Linked DNA regions of Homo sapiens. The protein of the gene in region 3 purifies or fractionates together with the protein of the main gene of each other region. This does not show direct contact. Each region holds a gene or a part of one and is shown on either strand. Other genes may lie near its edges. The genes, in order: DHX8, TMEM165 and GPATCH8.

Region 1 (3,654 bases), 920 kb from region 3:
GGTTTTGTGAACATAGTTTTTACCCAGTGTGAACTCTCTGAAAGCAGGGGCCATATCCTGGCCATCTTTATATCCCTCCCACCTAACATGGTATGAGATCCCTCATAGATATATAGTAGAAATGATGTATGCAAGAGACAGGACAAGTTGGTAGACTATATTATTATTATTATTATTGTAAAATACATAACAACATTTACTATTGTAAGCTTTTTAAAGTATACAATTCAGTGGCATTAAATACATTCAAGATGTTGTACAACCATCACCAACATCCATTTCCAGAACTTTTTCATTGTCCCAAACAGAAACTCTGTACCCATTAAACAGTAACTCCCCTTTCCCCCTTCCTCTATCCCTTGGTAACTACTCTTCTACTTTTTACCTCTCTGAATTTGTCTATTCTAGATAGCCTCATTTAAGTGGAATCATACAATATTCTTTTGTATCTGACCTGTTTCTCTTAGAATAATGTTTTCAAGATTTATTCATGTTATTTTCAAGGTTTATCCATTTATTTCATTCCTTTCTAAGGGTGAATAGTATTCTGTTGTATGTATATACCACATTTTGTTTATCCATTCATCAGCAGATGGACATTTGGATTGTTTCTACCTTTTGGCTATTATCAATAATGCTGCTGTGAACATTAGTGTGCAGGTATCTGTTTGAGTCTGCTTTCAGTTCTTTTGGATATATACCTAGAAGTGTAATTGCTGGGTCATGTGCTAATTCTGTATTTAGCCTATTAAGGAACCACCAAACTTTTCTACAGTGGCTGCAACATCTTACATTCCCACCAGCAATGCATGAGGTTTCTGATACCTCCCGTCCTCACTGACATTTGTTAGTTTCTGTTTTTTAAAAAAATTATAGCCATCCTAGTGGGTATGAAGTGATATTTCATTGTAGTTTTGATTTGCATTTCCCTAATTACTACTGATGTTGTGCATCTGTGCATCTTTTTATGTGCTTGTTGGCCATTTGTATATCTTCTTTGAAGAAATGTCTATTCAAGCTCTGTGCCTATTTTTTAAATTGAGTTGTTTGTCCTTTTGCTGTTGAGTTGTACATATTGTCATTTTGAGAGAGTGTTAGGGTTTTTTGTTTTTTTTTTTCTTGGAAGACGTTTTATCATGTTGCCTAGGCTGGTCTCAACTCCCGGACTCAAGCGATTCTCCCTCCTTGGCCTCCCAAACTGCTGAGATTACAGGTGTGAGCCACCATGCCCAACTGAGAGAATATTTTCAAAAAGTTTCCTGAGAAATTATGTGCTTTCCTTTGGGAGGCCGAGGCAGGCGGATCACTTGAGGTCAGGAGTTCAAGACCAGCCCAGCCAACATGGTAAAACGCCATCTCTACTGAAAATACAAAAATTAGCTGGGCATGATGGCGGGTGCCTATAATCCCAGCTACTTGGGATGCTGAGGCAGAAGAATCGCTTGAACGTAGGAGGTGGAGGTTGCAGTGAGCTGAGATTGGGCCACTGCACTCCAGCCTGGGTGACAGAGTGAGACTCTGTCTCAAGTATGTGCTTTCTATTATAATAGTCTGAGTTTTATGTGGCCCAGCCCTGGAAGTTACCGCCAGTCTCACCGGTGGCTTCCTAATTGCAATTGAAGAAATGGGAAATAAAGTAACAAGTAGCTTCCCCACATGCTGACACTGGCTAGACTGACCCTCTTATCACATGCCTTCTTCCTTTCTGTTCTAGGCCATGGGTATCAATGATCTGCTGTCCTTTGATTTCATGGATGCCCCACCTATGGAAACTTTGATCACAGCCATGGAGCAGCTGTACACACTGGGGGCCCTGGATGACGAGGGCCTGCTCACTCGCTTGGGCCGCCGGGTAAGGGACAGACTCAACTTCCTGTGCTTTTGGGAAGATTCCCTGGTCAGCCTTTCACATCCTTCGGTCTGTACAAAATCAGGCTGAGGCCGTGGATAAGCTTTGAGTAAAATTCTAAATGTTTGTTTTTAACCTGAATTTCTCCACTGTCACTTTAAACTGTTTCTTCTTTATACAAAAAGGTGTTCTGTTCATAATTTTGCCTGAGGATGTATTACTGAATGTAGCCTTAATTAGAAACGGCATCTGCAAAATTCTCATCTACCCCAACAGTAGTTATATGCTTGGTCACATACATCCCGTTGGAGTTTATTTGGGAAAAGAATAAACAACAGCATTCTTCTGATAGAGAAAGGCATCCCAAGGCATCATTATGCTTTGGGAAAATCTGTGTTGTTACCCACTCTGACCAAGGTCTTGCTCTGGTGAATCCAAATGTGTCTTCCACAGGGAAGCAGTTGTAGTCTTTTTTTGTCCCTCTAGATGGCAGAGTTCCCTCTGGAGCCAATGCTATGCAAAATGCTCATCATGTCTGTGCATCTGGGCTGCAGTGAGGAAATGCTGACCATTGTATCCATGCTGTCTGTGCAGAACGTCTTCTATAGGCCCAAGGTAGGAAGTTCAGATCCAAGTTTAGATGGGGGTGCCATGAAGTTGGGGTAGTTGGCCTGTTGCCATTCCAATGCTTGATGTGGACTTTTTTTTTTTTTTTTTTTTTTTTGAGATGGAGTCTCACTCTGTTGCCCAGGCTGGAGTGCAGTGGAATGATCTTGCAATCTCTACCTCCCGGGTTCAAGCAGTTCTCCTGCCTCAGCCTCCAGAGCAGCTGGGATTACAGGCGTGCGCCACCGTGTGCTGCTAATTTTTGTATTTTTAGTAGAGACAGGGTTGCACCATGTTGGCCAGGCTGGTCTCAAACTCCTGGCCTCAAGTGATCCTCTTGCCTCAGTTTCCCAAAATGCTGGGATTACAGGCCTGAGCCATCATGCCTAGCCTGATGTGGACACTTTTGATAGGGTCTTGTAGGGCTCCCTAGAATTGCTCCATGTTCAGTTAGTAGCTGTTGAGTCGGAAATGTTCCTCTGTCCCACTGCTTGGCAGGATAAACAAGCCCTTGCAGATCAGAAGAAGGCCAAATTCCACCAGACTGAAGGGGACCACCTCACCCTGCTAGCTGTGTACAACTCCTGGAAGAACAACAAGTTCTCCAACCCATGGTGCTATGAGAACTTTATCCAGGCTCGTTCCCTGCGCCGGGCCCAGGACATTCGCAAGCAGATGTTAGGCATAATGGACAGGTAAGCTGGAATCTGATGACTCTGCATGTTTGAGTTGAACCACCTTGAGTATCATGTCTTTTCATCTCTGTGTGTACCTATAAAGCTATAGGCACCTTTTCTCTTGCTCCTCACATAACCCTTTTCCTCCAGCTTTTCCATCTTTGTTATATTCCTTCTCCCCAAGTAAGGGTATGCCTGAGAATTACCTCAGATACCTAAGAGGAAGATTATCTGTTAGTTGTTGAAAAAAATGCTCTTTGTTTGCAACCCTCTGGAACATTATTACTGTGGAATTGAATACCTGTCTAAACAAAGTGTCTGTCTCTGAGTGCCTCCGTCTGCCCACTGTGTAGAGCTGCCTCTGTAGTACACTTAGGGCTGGAAGGAAGGTCCTGGTGACTACTCTGGGCACCCCAAGATGGATGTGTTGGGCACTGTCATTGTGAAAATAGACCTGTGAAAGCTGAGTGGGCTCATATCTTTTGTCCTATCTTGATAGACACAAGCTGGATGTTGTTTCCT
Region 2 (3,513 bases), on a different chromosome or scaffold from region 3:
TTGAAGGCCAGGACTAAGATAGATGGGAAAGGCTATTTTGTCAGGGAAGCCTCAAAAATGCTGTATTTTGGGGAAAAAAAATGGAACTCTGATTTTCATTTGATTCTCATAAAACAAACTTTCTTTAAAAATATCACTTTAATTAGCTGGGCGTGGTAGCGGGTGCCTGTAATCCTAGCTGCTAGAGAGGCTGAGGCAGGAGAATCACTTGAAACCGGGAGGCAGAGGTTGCAGTGAGCCGAGATGGTGCCACTGCTCTCCAGCCTAGGTGACAGAGTGAGACACTATCTTAAGAAAAAAAAATATATATATATATACATATATATTTATTTATTTATTTATTTTATTTATTTATTTAATGGCTGTACCCTATATTCTTCTTGATTTCTAGCCTTTTATTGGCTCTCAGATTGCCAGAGTTGGGACTCAATAGTAAGTAACCATTTTGTTGAGGTGGTAGTGATTCTACCAGGGTGAGTTATCATGACAGCAGAATCACTGCGTTTTTCTCTCTACTCTGTGGCATAGACTCTATGCCATAGAGTGACGTGTGAAAGGCTTGAGGCTCCCTACCTACGAGACACCCTGGTCCATTCTAGCAGTATGGCACGTGCTGACTGGGTTTTGAGTCTCTTGCTGTAAAATCACATTACTGCACTTCCCTGCATTTTCTCATCCAAAAATGGGGATTACCTGCTTTGTGGATCGGTTTGCAGATGAAATAACACACGCAGGGTATCTAGCATGGTCCCCCACATGGCACATTCAGTGTTAGCCACACTTCCATACTAACTGCCCTGCGGGGATATTTAATGAGCTCTTAAATGGCAGAAATGTTGTGTCTTTTCCTGTTCCCTTAGTATTCCTATTTTTGTTGGTAATTTTTCTTATGAACCATGCAGTTGTCTAGTTCAGGCCATTTTAGTATGCAGTTTTATCTTTGCTTCCAACATGATTTAATGTTCCCAAATTGGATTTCACATAATCCTAGTGTCCTTTGAGACTTGAATTGGTTCTAGGCCAAAAAAGGGTGAGGGGGAAGGAAGAAATTCAGAGTCAAATTTGGCAAATAATATATCCCTGTCGTTTTGTTTTTTCTTTTTAAGACTTGGGCCAGGTGTGGTGGCTCACGCGTTTAATCCCAGCACTTTGGGAGGCTGAGGCAGGCAAATCACCTGAGGTCAGGAGCTCGAGACCAGCCTGGCCAACATGGTGAAAAATACAAAAATTATCCAGGCATGGTGGCCCACGCCTGTAGTCCCAGCTACTCGGGAGGCTGAGACAGGAGAATCTCTTGAACCCGGGTGAGCCGAGATCGCGCCACTGCACTCCACTCTGGTCGACAGAGCTAGATTCCATCTCAAAAAAAAAAAAAAAAAAAAAAGACGACTCAGTATACAAATAAAGACTGGAAAGTCCTATATTAAAGGAACTAGTTAAATACTAGTTTATTTTACTTAATCTAGTGAATTTTTAAATATTTTCTTTCTTTCTTTTTTTTTTTTTTTTTTTTTGAGACAGGGTCTGGCTCTGTCAACCAGGCTGGAGTGCAGTGGCACAATCTCAGCTCACCTCAACCTCCACCTCCTGGGCTCAAGCCATCCTCCCACCTCAGCCTTCTGAGTCTGGGACTACAGGTTCCCACCACCATGCCTGGCTAATTTTGTATTTTTTGTAGAGACAGGGTTTTGCCATGTTGCAGAGGCTGGTCTCGAACTCCTGAGTTCATGCAATCTGACCACCTTGGCCTCCCAAAGTGCTGAGATTACGCCCGGCCTAAATATTACTTTCAAATAGAACCATCTTCATGGGTAGCAGTTTATAATACACAAGTAGAATTTGGGAAATGTAGTCCCAGTCTTCCATTCTTCACAGTGGATGCTTCAGCCAGTTTCCTGTCTCTGCACACACACTGCCCGACAGCGGGCTTTCCCTTCTCCTTCAGAGCAGTAGCAGTTCCCTTTCTTCATTCCCACCCATCACAGTGGCAGCCCCCTCTGCCCTCCTGTATTCTGAATCCCACCCTTATAATATGCTTAGATTTTGCCTTTCTCCCAGCCGTTTTGTGAGCATTGTTCGTGTGTACCAATTTTTTCTCATCCTTTAAAAAGAAAAAAAAAAAGCCCCTTTTCTCAATTGTACATCGCAAATCCAACTCTTGCCCTCCTGCAGTGTCAGAGGACTTGGCTGTGATGGGAATAAGCCTTGGCTCTGTTCTCCTTGCATACTTAGCCCATGGGAACCCAGTTTCTGGCCTCACCAGGAATGTTGTTGTGCTTTGAGCTCCCTGTGGCCTTGCATGATGCCTCCGTTGGTCCTTACAGGAGGTGATTGGCTGGCCACCTCACTTGCTTTCTCCTGTGGACCCTTCTTTCTCTGTCCTTCCTTGAATGCTGCCTTTGTCCCTCATGATTATGCTATCAACATTCTTCTCTTTCTGCTTTCTCTGTAACAGGTTTATTGACTCTTTTTTTTGAGAGTCTTGCTCTGTCACCCAGGCTGGAGTACAGTGGCACAATCTTGGCTTGCTGCAACCTCTGCTTCCTGGGTCCAAGCGATTCTTCTGCCTCAGCCTCCCGAGTAGCTAGGATTAGAGACATGTGCCACCAAGTCTGGCTAGTTTTTGTATTTTTAGTAAAGATGGGGTTTCACCATGTTGTCCAGGTTGGTCTCAAACTCCCAACCTCAGGTGATCTGCCTGCCTCGGCCTCCCAAAGTGGTGAGATTACATGTGTGAACCATCCACCCACCCTGATTCAACTGACTCTTAACTTTAAAAATCACATTGGTCTTACCATACATAGTTCATCAATTGTGGGAGAGAAACTTGGGTGTCATGCTTTATTTATTTATTTTTTTTTTGAGATGGAGTCTCACTCTGTCACCCAGGGTGGAGTGCAGTGGCACGATCTCAGCTCACTGCAACCTCAGCCTCCTGGATTCAAGCCAATTCTCCTGCCTCAGCCTGCCCAGTAGTTGGGACTACAGGTGCCTGCCACCACACCCGGCTAATTTTTTGTATTTTTAGTAGAGACAGCATTTCACCATGTTTCAGTCTCCTGACCTCGTGATCCACCCTCCTCGGCCTCCCAAAGTGCTGGCATTACAGGCGTGAGCCACTGCACCCAGCCTATTTTTCTTTTTTTAATAAGAGATGGAGTCTTGCTTTGTCACCCAGGATGGAATTTGTAGCATAGTAGTGTGATCATAACTCACTGTAGCTTCAAACTCAGGCTCAAGTGATCCTCTCACCTCAGCCTCCTGAATAGCTGGAACTACATGCATGAACCACTGCACCATTATTTTATTTTTAAGAGACGGGATCTCGCTGTACTGCTCAGGCTAGCCTTGAACTCCTGGCCTCAAGTGATCCTTCTGCCTTAGCCTCCTGAGTGGCTGGCTCCACTCTGCTTGGCTCTGATATTTTTCCATAAAGCCTATCATTCATTTATCATGGAGGTATGTTAATTTTGCCTTCTTAATTTCTCTCAAATTCACCTGCTCTTTGCCTAC
Region 3 (3,654 bases):
ATCACAATAAAAAGCGCAGGTTGTGATGTAAAACAGCTGTGGTAGTAAAGTGCTTGTCTGCCCCATTTTGCTTTGTTTGGCTGGTTATGAGTGGATTAAATATATATTTATTAAAAAAATTATCCAGCATAGATCAATTAGTTTAAAGTCAATTTTCTTCGCAACTAGTCCTTTTCACAGCTTACCAGTTACCCTCGCAGCCAGTGTTAAATCCACTCTAGGAAATGGGACTTTAGAGCACCAGATTAAAAGGAAAACTATTCTTTTCTCTAAGGGCAACTAATTGTTTCTTTTTATTTAAACTTTTCACAGCCCCATTAAATTGTAAAGCATCTCCTAGTCTATGAGGAACATCAAAAAAAATTGTAAAGCATCTTTTGAAAACAAATTCAACATACTGAGTTGTAATTATAAAGTTTTACTGCATCATGTTTAAAAATGTACTTTTTCTATTTAACCATGCCAGTTGAGATTTTTTTTTTTAAACTAGGTTAAAAAGTTGTGTAGGAGGATATCAGTGGGCAGAGTAAAGTGATACTTGATGGGAAGTTATTTGGGGATCTTAAAAGGAATTTTTAAAGTTTTACAATTTAAACCTCCTGATGCCATTGCTTAAAAGTGCTTTGCATTACTTATTAATGTAATTTTGCCATAGTAATTTGAAATTAATCCCAACTGGACGTCAGCCAAGGTGGTTAATTGGGTTTAAACTAGGAAAGGAAGGTCTTGAGTGTAAGCTGTGAGAATGGCTTGTGTTTGGTTCACTGTAGCTTTCTGGTCTCTGCACTCCAAGGCAAGATCTCTAACCACCCAAAACCCAATGTGTAAAATGAGCTGTTGGTTTGGCTTTGCACCTTACCTTGATTATGTGTTCCTGTTACAGGGAGAACAGATCCCATTCCAATCGTTGTCAAGTATGATGTCATGGGCATGGGTCGCATGGAAATGGAGGTAAATTGATCTCATTAACTCATAAGTTTTGTGAGATATTTTGAAATAATACTAATTCCAAATTCAGATGTCTGTGCAAGAATACATTTATCAGATGAAATGTAGTTTTAATATTTTTCTTTGGATGACTAAAAAATATATTTTACATTTTCATTTAGTGCTACTTTTGAGACAAATAGAATATAAACAGAGCTGCTGTTTTAACTGGCACATAAAGAAGTTAAGTGATTTGCCGAGGGTTATACAGCAAGGCAATATCAGACTTAGATCCAGACCTTGGTACTTGCTTCAGTAGGCAGTGTTGCTCAGCTCTTAAAATGTTGCTGTGATAAAAGCTTTGCCTTTGTAGAATTGGGTACGGCTGTCACCTGTAATACCTGCTTTTCATTGCCTAAAATATTTTCTTCATTGACTCCTAATTCCTTTTTTTTTTTTTTTTTTTTTTTTTGAGATGGAGTTTCGCTCTTGTTGCCCAGGCTAGAGTGCAATGGCGCAGTCTCGGCTCACTGCAACCTCCGTCTCCCGGGTTCAAGGGATTCTCCTGTCTCCTGTCTCAGCCTTCTAAGTAGCTGGGATTACAGGCGCATGACACCATGCCCGGGTAATTTTTGTGTTTTTAGTAGAAACAGGGTTTCATCATATTGGTCAGGCTGGTCTTGAACTCTTGACCTCAGGTGACCCGCCCGCCTCGGCCTCCCACAGTGCTGGGATTACAGGTGTGAGCCACTGTGCCCAGCCTCAATTTTCAAAGAATTAGGAGTCGCTGGGCGCAGTGGCTCACGCCTGTAATCCCAGCACTGTGGGAGGCCGAGACAAGCAGATCACCTGAGGTGAGGAGTTCAAGATCAGCCTGGCCAACATGATGAAACTCCATCTCTACTGAAAATACAAAAAAAATTAGCAGGGCATTGTGGCGGGCACCTGTAATCCCAGCTACTCAGGAGGCTGAGGCAGGAGAATCACTTGAACTCGGGAGGCAGAGGTTGCAGTGAGCGGAGATCATGCCATTAAACCCCAGCCTGAGCAACAAGAGTGAAACTCCATCTCAAAAAAAAAAAAAAAAAAAGGAAAGAAAGAAAAGAAAATTAACATTGAAGTGAAGTCTACTTTCAACAAATGTGCCTTTTGGAAACTACCAGCCTGAAAGTAACAAACTATTTTGCATGTGATTTTCTCTGTGAGGTGACAATAAAGCAAGCAGTAGCTAAGCAAAATTACAATTTTTTTTTGTTTTCAGATAATACTGTAGTTGTGCAAATAACTTTTTCATAGCTAATCTTGGGGGTACTTTAGGAATTAAATCTAATCATATCTATTTTTGTCAAGCTTGATTATGCTGAAGATGCTACCGAACGGCGCCGTGTCCTAGAAGTAGAAAAAGAAGACACAGAAGAGCTGAGACAAAAGTACAAGGTATTTAAACAAAGCTATTCATTGGGAGATGGGGAGGTGCTCACTGAATAAGAAAGAACTCAAATTTTGTTGAAAATCATCACTGTTGCTAACAGCATTTGTTTGACATTTGGTGGTAATTAGTAGTAGATCTCAGATTTCTATTACATTCCTATTTATTGGCTCTGTATAAACTATAGAGATAATAATACCTACTTCTAAAGTGTGTTAGAAAGATTACATGAATTAGTGTTTGAAAACACAATGCCTGTTACATAGTAGGTATTCAAGTAGTGGTAGCAGTAAAAATTGTTAAAAGTCCTTTGAGGCCAGACACAATGGCTCACACTTGTAACCCCAACACTTGCAGAGGCCAGACACAGTGGCTCACACTTGTAACCCCAACACTCAGTAGAGACGGGGTTTCACCATGTTGGTCAGGCTGGTCTCGAACTCCTGACCTTGTGATCCACCCGCCTCGGCCTCCCAAAGTGCTGGGATTACAGGCGTGAGCCACCACGCCAAGCCTAATTTTTGTGTTTTTAGTAGAGATGGGGTTTCACCATGTTGGCCAGGCTGGTCTTGAACTCCTTGCCTCAGGTGATCTGCCTGCCACGGCTTCCCAGTTTGCTGGGATTTCAGGCGTAAGTCACCGCGCTTGACCCCCTTTCTTGTTTTTGAACTTAGCTTAGCTATATATTAAATTTTTGTGTGTTTTATTTTATCCAGAACTATAATATAACCAACTCATCTTCTTTTCCTGCCCCTTTTTCTTTCCCCTTTTTCTTCTCCTTTCCTCTCTCTTTATTCACTCTTCAGCCTATTTATACTGACTTTAGCAGTTTTCACCAAACCACTTTATTCAAGGCCACCAAACACTTCTATTTGCTAAATCCAATAAATCATTTATTTATTTATTTATTTTATTATTATTATTAATATTATTATTTTTTTTAAAGACTGAGTCTCACTCTGTTGCCCAGGCTGGAGTACAGTGGTGTGATCTAAGCTCACTGCTCCCGGGTTCAAGTGATTCTCGTGCCTTAGCCTCCGAGTAGCTGGGACTACAGGTATGAGCCACCACGGCCAGCTAATTTTTTTGAATTTTTGGTAGAGATGGGGTTTCACCATGTTGGCCAGGCTGGTCTCGAACTCCTTACCTCACGTGATCTGCCCACCTCGGCCTCCCAAAGTGTGGGGATTACAGGCGTGAGCCACTGCGCCTGGCATACTCTTTCTTCTTTAAAACATTTTCATTACTCTTGGTTTTGAAGAATTTATACTTTCCTAGATTAGTTGCTTCTTATCTGT

What was found.
Region 1: the proteins of GPATCH8 (region 3) and DHX8 purify together in Homo sapiens (co-immunoprecipitation; one large-scale study listed by IntAct). This does not show direct contact.
Region 2: the proteins of GPATCH8 (region 3) and TMEM165 purify together in Homo sapiens (affinity purification with mass spectrometry; one large-scale study listed by BioGRID and IntAct). This does not show direct contact.

What each region holds. Positions count from the first base shown.
Region 1 is NC_000017.11:43,518,416-43,522,069, forward strand, and holds part of DHX8 (ATP-dependent RNA helicase DHX8), read left to right. Parts: intron 1-1,714; coding exon 1,715-1,852; intron 1,853-2,335; coding exon 2,336-2,464; intron 2,465-2,953; coding exon 2,954-3,150; intron 3,151-3,631; coding exon 3,632-3,654.
Region 2 is NC_000004.12:55,419,805-55,423,317, forward strand, and holds part of TMEM165 (putative divalent cation/proton antiporter TMEM165 precursor), read left to right. Parts: intron 1-3,513. UniProt on the Homo sapiens protein: Putative divalent cation:proton antiporter that exchanges calcium or manganese ions for protons across the Golgi membrane.
Region 3 is NC_000017.11:44,433,775-44,437,428, reverse strand, and holds part of GPATCH8 (G patch domain-containing protein 8), read left to right. Parts: exon of another isoform or gene 1-883; coding exon 884-951; intron 952-2,277; coding exon 2,278-2,364; intron 2,365-3,654.